2 linked regions of the Homo sapiens genome follow. The protein of the gene in region 1 purifies or fractionates together with the protein of each later gene. This does not show direct contact. Each region holds a gene or a part of one and is shown on either strand. Other genes may lie near its edges.

Evidence for each region. Proteins that work in one complex are often made in the same cells at the same time.
Region 2: the proteins of EDNRA (region 1) and MTX1 purify together in Homo sapiens (affinity purification with mass spectrometry; 3 studies listed by BioGRID and IntAct, with this or other methods). This does not show direct contact.

The regions. Positions count from the first base shown.
Region 1 is NC_000004.12:147,483,531-147,491,566, forward strand, and holds part of EDNRA (endothelin-1 receptor isoform a precursor), read left to right. Parts: intron 1-2,081; 5' UTR 2,082-2,151; coding exon 2,152-2,571; intron 2,572-8,036. UniProt on the Homo sapiens protein: Receptor for endothelin-1. Mediates its action by association with G proteins that activate a phosphatidylinositol-calcium second messenger system. The rank order of binding affinities for ET-A is: ET1 > ET2 >> ET3.
Region 2 is NC_000001.11:155,204,798-155,212,212, forward strand, and holds the start of MTX1 (metaxin-1), read left to right. Parts: upstream 1-3,897; 5' UTR 3,898-4,007; coding exon 4,008-4,535; intron 4,536-5,548; coding exon 5,549-5,618; intron 5,619-5,750; coding exon 5,751-5,830; intron 5,831-7,329; coding exon 7,330-7,415. Other genes in the region: THBS3 (thrombospondin-3), read right to left, coding at 58-160, 263-519, 1,403-1,609, 2,174-2,423. UniProt on the Homo sapiens protein: Involved in transport of proteins into the mitochondrion. Essential for embryonic development.

The DNA.
Region 1 (8,036 bases):
AATACTCGCACTTTATATATACCCTATACTTTCTATGCAACTTGAATAAATCTTATTTTATCCACGTATTGGCCAAACCTAAGCTTTACTGATTTCCCAAGATAATTGTCAAAATTCCTAAAAGTGGTTAACATCAACCTTGAATACACTCAGAAAAAGGATTCAATTTTATTTTTTACTTTTTATTTATTTAATTTTTTTTTTTTTGAGACAGGGTCTCACTCTGCTGCTCAGGATGGAGTGCAGTGACTCGATCATAGCTCCCTGCAGCCTTAACCTCCTGGACTCAAGTGATTCTCCCATCTCAGCCTCCCAAGTAGCTGAGACTACAGGCACACGCCACCATGCCTGTCTAATCTTTTTTATGTTTTGTAAAGACAGGGTCTCACTAAGTTGCCCAGGCTAGTTTCAAACTCCTGGGCTCAAGTGATCCTCCTGCTTTGGCCTCCCAAAGTGCTGAGATTATAGACATGAGCCACCACACCCAACCAGGACTCAATTTTTTTAAGATTAAATTATGACCTGGGTATATACATCACAGACACGTACACACACCACCGCATAAATCAGATTATGTCTTCATTTGAAGATTCATAAAAGCCTACAGAAAAGGAAATATATAAAATATTGAAATAGGATGAGCTATTTTTAATTATCTTTGATTATTCCTTATTAAGGTCTCCTAGACTTCCTGGACAGGAAGGACCACTTGCTCTCTGCAAGTGACTTAAAAATAAATAAATAAATAAATAAACCACACCAGATGGTCTTTGAAAATGTCTAACCACCCTCCTGAGTCTATTGCTTCATCTAAACTCTGGAGACTTCTTTAAAATATTTTACATACAAATAAAGCACAAGAATGAGAGACAGGATGGTTTAGTGGTTAACAGCTCCGGCTCAGAGTTGGACTGACCTGCCTTAGAATCGCAGTGTTGCCACCCATCACCTGTGGCCTTGACAAGCTGCTTCACCCTCCTGGGCCTCTGTTTCCCTATCTTCAAAATTGAACCGTGGATCTACCCCACAGGACCATTGTATGGATTACAGGGCATCATGCACATATAGTACTGAGTACAGTGACTGGCATAAAATAAATGTAGCTATATAGGATGGTTAAAAGATAGCATGGGGACAGGTGTCCCTTGGAAACCAAAATACTATGACTAGCCTGGAAAAGTTCATTACTCCCATTTCATTCATCGGCAAATACCGTATTGTGATGATAATTTCTGAGAAATGAAAAAGCAAAAAAACTCCTGTAAAAAATTTAGATTTTACACATTAATCATCAAGGTTTTCAAAACAAATGTTTTTATCAATTATTTCATTCTTAATTGAAACTAAAATTGTTAGATGTGTTAATGGTGTTAACCAGAGTTCTCATTAACATTTCATAACACTTTAGATGGCTACCTGTGCTGCACTTCATCCCTATGTTCATTATTTATCATATGCAAGACAGCACACATTTTAGAAGATTCAATTTTTACATTCGATAATTTTATTTTATGCCTCAATACCCTGTACCCTTTACTCAGCATATAATGCCTTTTCTCTTTCATTAAAAAATATGTTTGTATCTCAACTCTTGAAGATTTTTGTAATTCAGGTTCTTATCAGCCTGAATGTAGAGAAAGAAGTAACTACTACTTAAAGGAAAAACTGACATAGCCTCATCCATATTATGATGTAGATATAAGTATAGCTATGTATAGAGATGAGTGAGAGAGACAAAGCTAGAGAGATAGGGAGATGGAGATAGAGCTAGAGATGGAAATAGAGACAGAGATAGATAGCTATAGAGACGGAAATGGAGACAGAGACAGAGACGGAGATGACAGAGATGATGGAGATGATGGAGATGGAGATGGAGACTGACATAGAGGAGATAGAGCTTGCCCTAATAGAGCTTCAGTTTTTTTCTGGTTTTGCTCTGTCATAGGGTAACCTGATATACATATATCTTATCTAATCACCAAATATATCCTGCATTTTAATTGAATCAATAAATAATCATTGACTATGATCTTTTTGGCAACTGGGTTTTGGAACAAAAATTATTTTTCCTTTTGTTTCAGGTGAAAAAAAAGTGAAGGTGTAAAAGCAGCACAAGTGCAATAAGAGATATTTCCTCAAATTTGCCTCAAGATGGAAACCCTTTGCCTCAGGGCATCCTTTTGGCTGGCACTGGTTGGATGTGTAATCAGTGATAATCCTGAGAGATACAGCACAAATCTAAGCAATCATGTGGATGATTTCACCACTTTTCGTGGCACAGAGCTCAGCTTCCTGGTTACCACTCATCAACCCACTAATTTGGTCCTACCCAGCAATGGCTCAATGCACAACTATTGCCCACAGCAGACTAAAATTACTTCAGCTTTCAAATACATTAACACTGTGATATCTTGTACTATTTTCATCGTGGGAATGGTGGGGAATGCAACTCTGCTCAGGATCATTTACCAGAACAAATGTATGAGGAATGGCCCCAACGCGCTGATAGCCAGTCTTGCCCTTGGAGACCTTATCTATGTGGTCATTGATCTCCCTATCAATGTATTTAAGGTAGGAAGTAACCACAAATGTATTTGCAAATTTAAACCCATGCTCTGATTCCACGTGGAGAGTTGCTGCAGACTTTTCTGACCTTTGGAATTTTATCTGTGTTTTTACTGAGAGCTATTTCTGCTGTCTTCTAACTACTAGTTTTAAGATTTACAAATTTTATTATCTGTCTTATGTTACACTTAGTTTCTACCTTAATTGTAACAAAATAGTATTTCAGGGATGATGGTTCAAAATCATGGTGTTTCATGACTTGGATTCTCATGCCACCCCTGGGCTTGCTGGTTGGATAGGCTGTCTTGGCAAGATCCCTGGATTTTTATGAAATGCAATTTCCAGAGTGAGAGCTACTAGGCCCAGAAAATACTTGAAACAAACATATCCTTGAGTTTAGTTACCGTTGAATATGATGCTGTTCAGAAGCCAGATATCTACAGTCCAGCTTGAAATGAATTGTATTTATTTTATTTTGACTGTCTAGATTAATGATTAAAGCCAAAGGGCATCCTGGCTTTTCTCAGTGATATGGGTGACTTAGAGATAATGGGGTCCACATGATAGCAGGCCACTGTTGACCTTGCTGAGCAGCATTACTAACTAATACCACTTAAAATTTGCCTGCTTTACTGTGGTCTCCTTCATTTCTTCAGTCTGCATTTATTGAGCACCCACTGTGTGCCCACCCCTGAGCTAGGCAGTAAGGAACCAAAAAGAAACACAACAAAGTCAGTGCCTCAGTGTGAGAGGAAGATAACTAACCTTGCTTACAGACTGTATTAGGCCATTTCTACATTGCTATTAAAAAAAAAAAAAAAAGGCTGGGTAATTTATAAAGAAAAGAGATTTGATTGGCTCACAGCTCTGTAGGCTGTACATGCATGGCTCCAGCATCTGCTTCTGGTGAGGGCCTCAGGAAGCTTCCAAATATGGCAGAGGGAGAAGGGGTGCAGGCACGTAACATGGCAAGAGCAGGAGCAAGAGAGAAGGGGGCAAGGCACCACACTTGCAAACCACCAGATGTCTCGAGAATCACTCACTAATGCAAGGACAGCACCAAGCCATTCATGGGAGATCTGCCCCCATGAGCCAGACACCTCCCACCAGTTCCTACCTCCAACATTGGGGATTACATTTCAACATGAGATTTGGAGGGGACAAACATCCAAACTATATCAGAGACTACTTAGACCCAAAACAAACTAAAGCCGAAGGAATTACATATTCCATATTTGGTCTAGTTGTTGGGAGGGAAAAATTGCTGCAAGAATTCAGATATACTAAAATTCAAATGAAATGGCCTGATCTATGCCAGATTTTATGAAATGTGTTTATTCTAAACCCAAGAAGAGTATTTTCCTCAGCCTTGTTTTTTCCTTCTATGTATTATGCATAGAAAGCAACTATTCTAAGAGGTAATATTCTGAAATATTACTTTAAATGGCAAGTTTTGTCAATTGAAGATACAACACATTTTAAGTAAAACAGTAATCTCTCAGTTTCCAATAAGTACACTTAAGCTGTGGTTAAATTATATTACCCTAGCAGAAAAATCAGTGGTCTGATAATATAGATGAAAACAATGGTTACAATTTTGACATTGCAAATAAAAACTTCCCAAAATTACACCAGTACACTGTTTCCAAAATTGAAGAGATTAGAGAACAAACAATCAAAAAATTACCATCTCTTTCCACAGGATAGCATAAATACATGTGTTTTCTATTAGAGCTTAAAATAGGAATTTAGAACTAAACTATGATGCAAAATTGAAAATGTGTAATTGATTTAAAATGTTTAGCATATGCTACATAACTTTAATCTTTTCTTTTAAAAAGTTTTCTCTTTATGATATACTATGTGCACACAACCACTTGACTTTCTCCTGACATTTCTCCTTAATGATAAATTGGAAAATTCAAATTTTGACTCTTCAGCCATCAGAGTGTGGAGTATCAAACATTGATTATTCAAACTTATGAACTAGTGAACCAACCCATCATGGCTCAAGAAAATAATTATCCATCTCTGCATTTATAACTCCCTGCTGCTGTTCACCCTGAAGCACACTATGTAGACTTGCCATGTGCAAAGCAGCTTCTTAGCCAATCAATATCCACAACTGCTGGGAAGGATACCTGCTTATCTCTTTGCGGTGCTACTGCCAATCACCAGACTAAACATCATTTCTATTCCATGGCAACGTTTTAAGTCAGACCATCTGGAATGTCTCCAGATTTGGTAAAAATGCAAATAAAACTTTGCTTTACATTCACCTAGCAATGAATAAAAATTAACATATTCTTATTTGACCATATTGTTCTCCCCTCCTGGGAATCCAATACTTTGTATACCTTACTGTAGTTCTAAATAATGTGGACAGTTTGACTGGTACTTTTACATCATAGGTAGGAGTACATTTGTGTAATTCCTGTTTTTCCAAAACTCGTAATGAGTCATTTAACTATCATTAATTTTAGAAAGTAAACCTTTAGGCTAAAAAAACAAATACTCTTTAGTTATTTCAATCTTTTTCCAGAGGAAAAGAGAAAAAAGCACTGGAGTGTGCTAAAAAGGCTCACAGTATTTAGGAGCAATCGCCACATCTTTCTGTCATCCTCTTCTCTAGGTCATGAGATCATACATGTTGCTATTCTTCTGACTTCTAAGCAGGATACTCAAGAGATCCTTCCAAGCAATGTGAGTCACAGGCCCCCATCCCTTTCCCCCATAGCTGCCTCCCATAGTAAAATTCTGTGGGAGTCTGTCACATATTAAACCTATAGATTCCTCTAACCATATCAAGTTCACTACCTCTGTATTGCAGGGCAAGGTAGCAGCTGTCCATCTCACTTTACCATTACATTTATGTAGCTATGAAAATAATGCATACAATTGGAGAATATTCAGTTAAAGGGATGTGTGAGCCTTCTTTATTTCCCTATTAGAAGGATTAGGTTGAAAGAAGAATAAATAGTTGAAAGTATCTAATATGCTCTTCAAAGAAAGATGAGTTTTGAATCACACCTATTTTTGTGTTTAACAATTATATTAATTGCTTTTCTTTTTTAATTTGTATAAATTTATGGGGTGCAAGTGTAGTTTTGTTACATGTATATATTGCATAGTGGTGAAGTCAAGGCTTTTAGGGTATCCATCACAAAAATAATATACATTGTACCCACTATGAAATTTCTCATCATCCACTCTTAGTTGCTTTTATGCTCAGTTCTAAGGTGTCTCCAGACAGACAACATTGCTTTGAGTCATATCAGAGTCAGCATAAGTGGAAGTAGACTATTTAAAGATTGTATTAATATCTGAGGCAAGCTAGAATTACTGATAAGACTGTAATAATGTTACAAGAAGAAGAAGAAGGCACTATAAAGTATTCTTCCTATTAACGTTTTATTCCCTTTCTCTCACTTTGAAAAAGATTGTACTGAAACGGTTTCATAGAGCAATGTAATATAAAACACAACTGAAAAGTAACATAACAGGTATCAAACAGCTGGGCTGTTTCGGATGTCATTAACCTGTGTAGCTGATGCTTGGTGGCTCTGGATGGCCTGTGGCATGGAAGGTGGGATGGGGTCATTCCACCCCTAAATTTTCAGAAATTTCTTAATTTCTTAATTGATCTCCCTATCTTCAGAGCTTCTTCCCCATAACATATCCGGGACTTTGCTTCCATCTGTCAAGTGCCACTGCTTCTAAAAAAGCACCCAGGAGCTCCCACCTGTCCCCCTTTTCCCCCATGTTTAGCAATCAAGGCCCTCCACACTTTGGCCATACTTCACCTCCTTCCTACTAATTCCCAAAATGCATGGCTCAGCTCTGTCAAAATGCTATCACTACCCCCAAGGAACATACTTTGCCCTAAATAACATTCTCAGAGAGACTGAATGTAGTCACCGAATTGCTGCTGCTGAAGCATTTACAGATCCTAGTTTGAAAAATGAGTTAGGCCTAGAATTATATATGTTGCATCTAACAGAAATAACCCAAAAGATGAAAAGAAGTTCCTATAGCCCTTGCTTACATACACTCACACACACACACACACACACACACACACACACACACACAACCTGATGATAAAAGAAACTCAGCAATCTAAGAAAGTAAAATGCAAGGCAGAAGGAACCAAGGCAAGCCAATGAATGCCAGTTGCCTTCTTGGTTTTGAAACACAATGGCCTTGCAAATGCTAATGTTGAAGAAAAAACTATTTCTAAGATTATCAAAGGATAACTGATTTTTAGTTGTTCAAAATAAGGATAATATTACTAATTGCAGTAGAAGATTGACAAAAGCAGGAAGGAGGAAGGGAAAGGAGTTAGCAGATTTTTTCATATACCCAAGCTTATAACCCATACTGCTGGTGGATTCATTCTTGTCAATAAATTACATTATCTGATATCCTAAATTTTCAAGAAAAACAAAAACTTAGCCAAGTAAATTAATCTGTACATAGGATATTTACATTTGTTAGAATGGCAAAATAGTTAAAACATTGTCTCCATGTTGGGAGACTGAAAATAACCCCTGATTACTAGATGACAAAATAGATAAGTATAGAATTTAATAATTATATTATTTAATGATTCATGAGATTACATGTATGCCATAGAGTGTTGTCCATAGGGAGATGGGTTATAATTTTGAACAGAGTGGAAGCCCTAAAAGTGATATTTGTGCATGAGCCAAGGCTTGGCACCATGTAGCTTCAGGATAACAGCTCCGCCATTATGCACACACAGACATTTCCATATATCACTGTACCTCGTCTCTTAAGCAGAAACAAGAATGCAGGGAGATGTATGTATGAGAGAGATGGAGTAAGGGAAAGAAGTAAGAGGTACAGTCCAATGGCTTGCCATAGACGCTTTTGACGTGCATAGCAGGGAGTTGATGCCGTGGATAATATGCCACGTAAATCACGTCTCCACTTAGCATGTGGCACAAAGCAGATCTGTGAGAACAACAGTGATAGAAGCCGGTAACTCTGTTGATTACTAATTTTGTCTACCCTAAGCAACCACCCCTTATTGAGGACAACAATGAAAAATAAACACATCTTATTTCTGCATGAAGTTACCACGAATATTTTGCAATGAAAAGTCAAGACTCTCAATATGTTGCTCTGGCAGAGGATCTGAACAATGTGGAAATGAGAGACATCCACATAGAGCCAGTTATCTCCATGTTCACACAGCCTTTGACATCTTGTGCAACTGGGATCCATCCTTCTGGGGCAGCTTTACAAAAGCTGCTTCTTGACATATCAAATCACCACAGCAAATTGTGTCTTAAAAATAAATTGTCACAACTTACAGATTAGATACCTCAAGCATAGTAGATGTTCAGTAATGCTTGTTGTTATGATTTGATTTGATAAGGGCCTTCACTCTTAAATTAACTTCAAATCAGATTAATCTGAGATATTCAAATTAAAATGATGATGAA
Region 2 (7,415 bases), on another chromosome or scaffold:
GTCACCAAAGGCCACAGGATCCGTGGTCCAATGTCAGCAAACAAGTCTCTGTGTTACCTGCACTGTGGATGGACTCGTCCCCTTGGAATGGACACTCACTCAGGGCTCCTACCCGGGCCATGGACCCACCCAGAATAATTTTCATAGATTCCACAAAGCCCTGGGGGGATAGCAGCAGAGTAAGGTGGGAAGGTCTACCAACCCCTTCCCCAGCTGGTGCAAACTCTATTTCCACAGAACTCAGAGGCTCCTCCCGGCTCACCTGCATCCTCAAATACGCCTTCTGTCCAGTCCTAATCTCCAGCCCATCGACCTCCGCTGGAGGAATGGGGGCCAGTGCTGGAAGGCCTGCATGTTGGTCACCCAGTTTGCAGTCCACGTAGAGATGTAGGGCAGGGCTGGGTCTGGAGGGACCTCGGAGTCGCAGGAGAACTGTGTGTGTGCGCCCATCAGCCAGGCCCGCTTGCTGTAGGTTCACGGCGTGGACTTTGCCATCCTCCCGCTGGTATCGCACCAGTACTGCCCAGGAGGGGAGATCAGTATGGGCGCTATCCCCCACCCCCTGCCTCCCAGCTGAGCCTTGGATCAACTCTGCTAGATACCACATCTCTAGGGCCCCTATCCCTAATTCTACTATGTGGCTCTCAACACCTTGTATTTAATAGGTACACAATAAATGTTTTTGAAATTGCTTTAGAGGCCAGGCACGGTGGCTCACACCTGTAATCCCAGCACTTTAGAAGGCCAAGGTGGGCAGATCACTTGAGGTCAGAAGTTCGAGAACAGCCTGGTCAACATGGCGAAACCCTGTTTCTACTAAAAATACAAAAGTTAGCCAGGCATGGTGGTGGGCACCTGTAGTCCCAGCTACTCAGGAGGCTGAGATAGGAGAATTGCTTGAACCCAGGAGGCAGAGGTTGCAGTGAGCTGAGATTGTACCACTGCACTCCAGCCTAGGTGACAAAGCAAGACTCCATTTAAAAAAATAATTGGTTTAGAGACAAATACTTTCTTAGTCTTCATTGGTATCAGATGACTGTATCCTCTCCTAGGGTGACAGCTGGTTTTGTGGCCACTGACCTGTTCCAGGGATCTGAAAGACCTTTCTGTATCACCGCTGAGGCACAGAGACATGCCTCACCCTCCTTCCAGGCATCCCCAAGTACAACCTCCCATCCCTATAAATATCAGGACTCAAGCCTCACCCTATTGTTTGGTACATGGGCTCCTAAAGCACCTTATAAGCACCCCATACCAGGTGCCCCTGATGTCTGGGCACAGCCTGATGGGACCTTGGTCCCTAGTGGAGGCCAAGGAGAATGAGGAAGCACTTGGGAAGTAGGGATGAGGGAGAGTGCTTAAGGAGGTCACCATTGCAAGAAAGGAGATGCCCACCAGTCACCTTTGTTGATCTTGCCTACAACAGAGGCCTCCAGCCATCGAGTGTTGTCTTGGCGAGAATAGAGGCCAAAGAGGACACCACCCTGCTTGGGGGGCAGGCGGAAGGTGGATAAGAGGTAGATGTCCCCAGCAGTGAGCAAGGCTGTCCGGATCTTCTCTGCCACAGCTACCATCTGCCGAGACTCGCCCACAGTCAGCAGGTCAATTACTGGTCAGGCAGGGGTTATCAAGGTTAGAGAATGGGATCAAATGCTAAGGTATGCCCTCCCCCGAGCCCACATCACCCCCTACCCCCACCACCAGGCAGCGTTAGTCACCTCAAAATTCAACCCTTGGCTGGGCATGGTGGCTCGCACCTGTAATCCCAACACCTTGGGAGGTTGAGGCAGGTGGATCGCCTAAGGTCAGGAGTTCGAGACCAGCCTGGCCAACACGGTGAAACCCCGTGTCTACTAAAAATACAAAAACAACAACAAAAAAGAAAAAAAAACCACCTAGCCGGGCGTGGTGGCGGGCACCTGTAATCCCAGCTACTCAGGAGGCTGAGGCAGGAGACTCGCTTGAACCTGAGAGGTGGAGGTTGCAGTGAGCCGAGATCGCGCCATTGCACTCCAGCCTGGGCAACAAGAGTGAAACTCCATCTCAAAAAGACAAAACGAAAACAAAAAAAAACCTCAACCCTTGTTGCTCTCAGAGGACAGAGGCACTGTGCCTTCCTTTCCCCATTATTGCCTATTACTACCTTCCAGGAACCTGCAGGTTTGAGACTCACTTGGAAACACAGAAACAGCACCCCACAAATTTGAGATGCCCCCACCAGGTGGCGCAAAGGAGATGCTGTGCTGATCCCCCACAGGAGTGGCACCTGGTGTCCACAACGTAGAAATGGAAGGCAGCTTCTCTTTCCACTCCTGGGTTTGGCTCGTTCCACACCCTAGTTCCCCTCCTCCCATCCTAGGGGCGCAGCACACTCGCTCTGGATAAGAACAGCTGCCCACTGAGGACTCTAACCCTCCCACCATCTGGGCTATCTCCCACGGGAATGTAGGACCCAGCTCCTCTGCCTCCTGTGTCCTGGCCAATCTGTGGTTTTCCCTCCAGCCAGTAAAGAATCTATGCCTGTGTCATCTGCTCCAGCTACCTCTCCCACATCCATCGGCCCATCCCACCACCAGACCTCCGGGAGAGCCCAGGCTTCTTGGTCCCCACCCCCGCCCTGTCCTTGGGCAGCCAGGAGCCCAGGGGGACGAAGCCCAGGGACCTACAGTACGCCCACCTTCAGGCTGCTCTCCCAGACCCTAGGGTGCCTACAGATGCTCAGGAACCACCCCAGCCAGGCAGCCTGAGCATCCAGTTCCTGAGTCCTCTGCCCTGGCCTCATGCCTGACCCTGTCCTGTTCCAGCTCCCCCACTACTCTCCGGTGCCCACTCCTCTCCACCAGGCCATAATTTCACCAACTCTAGGCAGTCTTAAGTTTTCCTCTGGCTCAATTTCTGGACTCTTCCCCTCTCCCCTTGCCCACATGTTCTCTGCTACTTGGGCTGAGGGCAAATGGGGAAGAAGCAGAGAGCGGTCTAAGAGGATGGAGACAGGCTTACCCTGCAGATCCTGACTGGCAGATGTGAAAAAGCAAAGGAGGAGAAGAGCCAGGGCCCCCCGAAGTTCCTGCGTCTCCATGCCTCTCAGCCGGCTCACTACCCCTGGCAGGCAGGCAGCTGGGAGGGGAAAAGGCTAGGCGGAGAGAGCAGGAGCCGGGGGGCGGAGGGACAGAATTGGAGGGGGGGCCAGCAGGCGGGTGAGGGGGGGCTGAAACAAAGAGCTGCCAATCACCCTGGAGGCATCATCAGCTCTGGGAACCAGGGGCACTGGGAAAGAATCCTGGAGGCCTCCCTGCTTTCTACCTCTCCCTAATGATCCTCCCCCAGGTGCCTCCCTCTCCGCAGTCATCATTGTTGGGGGTCTCGGCACACAGCGCTACCGAATGCCACTGTTTTCTGGAAGCCACGATTGTGGAAGGCAAGAACCCCTGGCAGGGGCAGTGCTAGACAGTGGGCATTATTCCACAGCTGGCAGGAAAGGATGCCAAGGGAGTGGCCGCAACTAGCTTGCTATAGTGCCCAGGGATGCCCACATGGCATGAATTTTGCTGTTCTGGCGGAGCAAGTGCTCTTTATTAGGGTGGGGGGTCCCCTGACAAGTGCCTGTTTCTCCATTTTCCCTCATTCGTAGGAAAGCTTGGGAGTCTGGAAGCGTCTGACGGGAACTGAAGGGAGAATCTAAAGCAGTGGTCAGTGAGGTCAGAGTGAAGAAACCAAAAAAGAGGAAAGGGACACCAGGGACAGGCGCAGAAGACCAGGGGTACAGGCGAGGAGCCAAGGACCAGACTGTGGAACACTGTGGGTACTAGCGGACGGGCCGTGACCCGGATGAAGCAGAGGGGCGCCTGAGTTCCCGTCACCTAAGCGACAGCCTGCGAGCCTCTCTTCCCCTCCCCCACCCAAGCCCCAGCCCGGCCTCCGCTCCGGCCGCCGCCACCGCCCCTGTTTTGTTTCCATGGCGACAGGCGGCGCAGGGCCCGCTCCAAACATAACGCGCTGTGGAAAACATGCTGCTCGGGGGACCCCCCCGCAGTCCCCGCTCGGGGACGAGCCCCAAGGGGCCCTGGAGCAGTACAGGCCACGTGCAGTTTGGCAAGAGCCCCCAGACCTGGCCCAGGCGCACAAGACCCCGCTCTCCAGAGCCTGCCGCGCCTTCAGGGGTTCGGGGCTCCACTTGGACGAGGCGCCGTGACTCTCCGAGGCGCGCCGGGCCGACAGCGCTGTCCCGCTACGTGGGCCACCTCTGGATGGGCCGGCGGCCGCCCTCCCCCGAGGCCCGCGGCCCAGTCCCCCGCAGTTCAGCTGCCAGTCGGGCCAGAAGAAGCCTCGCCTCCCCGGGGATCTCCCCAGGCCCCCTGACCGCAACGATCGGAGGGGCGGTGGCGGGGGGCGGGCCCAGGCAGGGGAGGGCAGAAGCACACAAGGAAGTGTTTCCGGGACAGAGGGTGGGCAAGATGGCGGCGCCCATGGAGCTGTTCTGCTGGTCAGGGGGCTGGGGGCTGCCGTCAGTGGACCTGGACAGCCTGGCCGTGCTGGTGAGGGGTGGCGCCGGCGCCCTCTGCTGTGCCCTGATGACTGGGGAGGGGGCCGAACTAGCCAAGCATCCAAACCTTGCCAGGGCTACTCAGCACGGGCGCAGTGGGGGAAACTGAGGCAGTCAAAGAGCGTACGTGGCCGATATGGCCTCAGTGCCCTATGCTGTAGTTTTCTAGGCTTAATGCAGCAATGAAAAGACGCCTGGTTGGGAGTTCAGGTGATGGGTTCTAGTCCTTGCTCATCCATTCACTGGCTGTGTGACCTTGCGGAGATCCTTTCTCTTTGGGCATTTTTTTTCTCCATTCGGAGGTTTACTAGGCTGGACTGTCTCAGGGACCTACTCTAGCTTGGAATTCCTGCCTTCTCCTCAGCCCCCTTCTCCTCTTCCTCCTCACTTAACAGCATTTACTGAGGCTATTGTTTGTTAGACCAAACGACTCACAGCCAGGCTTTGTATAAAGAGCTTAGCAATCAGACTTCCTTTGCTTCATTTATTCATTGACTCCTTGCTTTAAAGAGGATCTATTAGATTTCTTCCAAATATTAAACATTGCCAGGCAAAGATGAATAAAATTTGGTTCCTCCCTTCGAGTTTACAGAAAGGCAGATAGGTAAGCAAATAAATATAATAAAATATTCACATATAAGTTAAAGTAGGAACAGACCACAGATACTGCCAAAGAGAAGGGCATTATCAGTGCTTCCAAGAAGAGGGATACTGGTTAGGAAAAGCTTCTGAGGATAGATGTTCACCAGGTAGATGGCAAGAGAGGAGATAGAGGAAAGGATTTTCCTGGCTGTCCTGTAATCACAGACATGTCCGGAATCTCTCTGAGCCCTGTGTTGTCCATTTGTAAAATAGAAATGGTAGTGACTCCCCCTTTTTTTTCGAGACTAAGATACTAAGTATAGGGAATGGCACATAAGGTATTCAATAAATGTTATTTCTCTTCTTGATACCACTGTGGGGGACATGGCTCTGCCTCTCTGACTTCTGCTTCCTTCCCTGCAGACCTATGCCAGATTTACTGGTGCTCCACTGAAGGTACACAAGATCAGCAACCCCTGGCAGAGCCCTTCAGGTACCCAGTATCCCTTGGGGGTAAGGAAGGGTGTGTACAAGGGGAGAAGCAAGAAATAGGCAGGAATGTGTTGCAACTATGTATGACTAGGCAGCTAAGGGTCTGGTTGGTATACTTCCCTCTCAATATCAGGAACTCTGCCTGCCCTTCGGACCAGTCATGGAGAGGTCATCTCAGTTCCACACAAGATCATCACCCACCTTCGAAAAGAGGTAGGTGACTTGGATAGAGGGGGCTGCCAGTGAGAGAAGTTCAGTCAATTCTATACAATACACATTTATTGAGCACCAGATATATGCCATGCTAGATGCAGGTGACCCAGAGCATCAAGGAGCAACAGTCTTGTGGCAGAGACACACACAATGTCACTGTGATGTATTAAAGCAGTCGGCAAGAGATGAAACTTAGGGCACTGTGAGGCAGGGAGGGAGAGGAGCACAGGCTGAAGGAGAGTGGAAGACAGCAGTTGGCCTCTGATGGTGGGACTGGAGAGAGATTTCTAAGGGCCACTTCCTGTTTTCAGGGACTAGGTTGGGCTAGATATGGGGCTCAGGATGGACAAGGCTTAGAGCCAGGTTGGAGAAGATGAAAGAGCATTACTAGAGGAGTGGGGAGGCCTAGGCTATGCTCTTTACTCTGCCATTGACTATGTGATCTCGGGCAGGCCATGTAACCTCTCAGGGCTGTGCACTCCCTTATTTGTAAAACTAGAGGGCTGGGCCAGCATGTTTTCCAAGGGTTCTTCTAGCATTGACGGTCAGGTTCCAAGAGGGAACAGTGTCAGAAGTAGGACACTCTTCCTCATTTCTAACTTCCCAAAGGTTGAGGACCTGGGGAATTAATTGAGAGGCCTGGAAAGAGAGGATCCAGATAAAAGCCAAAGTTCCTGGCAGAGCCGAGGCCACTGCCCTGATTGCTTAGGTGTGAACAGAGCTTTTCCAGTTTCCAAAGTATTCTAAATTATTTCCTAACACAGGGGCATTCAGAGAAAGAGATTCTTACCCCCATTCCACAGGGGAGAAACTGAGGCTTAGGGAGATTTAAGGATCATGCTGAAGAGGTTATCTGGGGACAAAGCTTACTCAGGATGTGGAGGGGGATGCTGAGGAACAGGGACTGGAGCCTGGGAAGGTAGGGCAGGCTGAGACCTGGGGGTATGGGTGGAATGTGTATGTGGTAATGGTGTCTGAGCGATGGAATGAAGTGAAAGAAATAGCCAAGAGCTGGGCACTGAGGGAACAAGCTGGGGGGCCCTGGGCGTGGGTTCCCTGGATCCAGGGAGTGTGAGGATGGCTTTCTCTGGTTCCTGAGGCATGGACCGAGTCCTAGCCTGCATCTGAGCTCCGTTGTGCTAGCTTTGTGGTGTCTGGGTCGGGGAAGTTACTGTTAGAAAGTTGCCGTCAGCGGGCGTTGTTCCAGCTTTCCATGGAAATTCTGGGAGCTGCTCCTAGTTTGCGGCGGAGCCTTCCTTCCTTCCCTGCATTGGGCGCTGGACCTTCACGGCCAGGAGGCTCCAAGGCCCAGGCTTTTCGCCAACAGCAACAGGCTACTGGCTGGGCCCAGGCAAGGGGGCCTTGGCAGGAAAAGTTCCTTGCTGTACCTCCACTGCACTCAGAGGCCAGTGAGGGGGGTACCAGACAGGACTCCTTCCTCCCTGGTGAAGTGCCCTTGCAGCTCCCTAGTGTCCACGCCATGGATATTTCCTCCACAGAAGTACAATGCTGATTATGATCTGTCAGCTCGGCAAGGGGCAGACACCCTGGCCTTCATGTCTCTCCTGGAGGAGAAGTTGCTCCC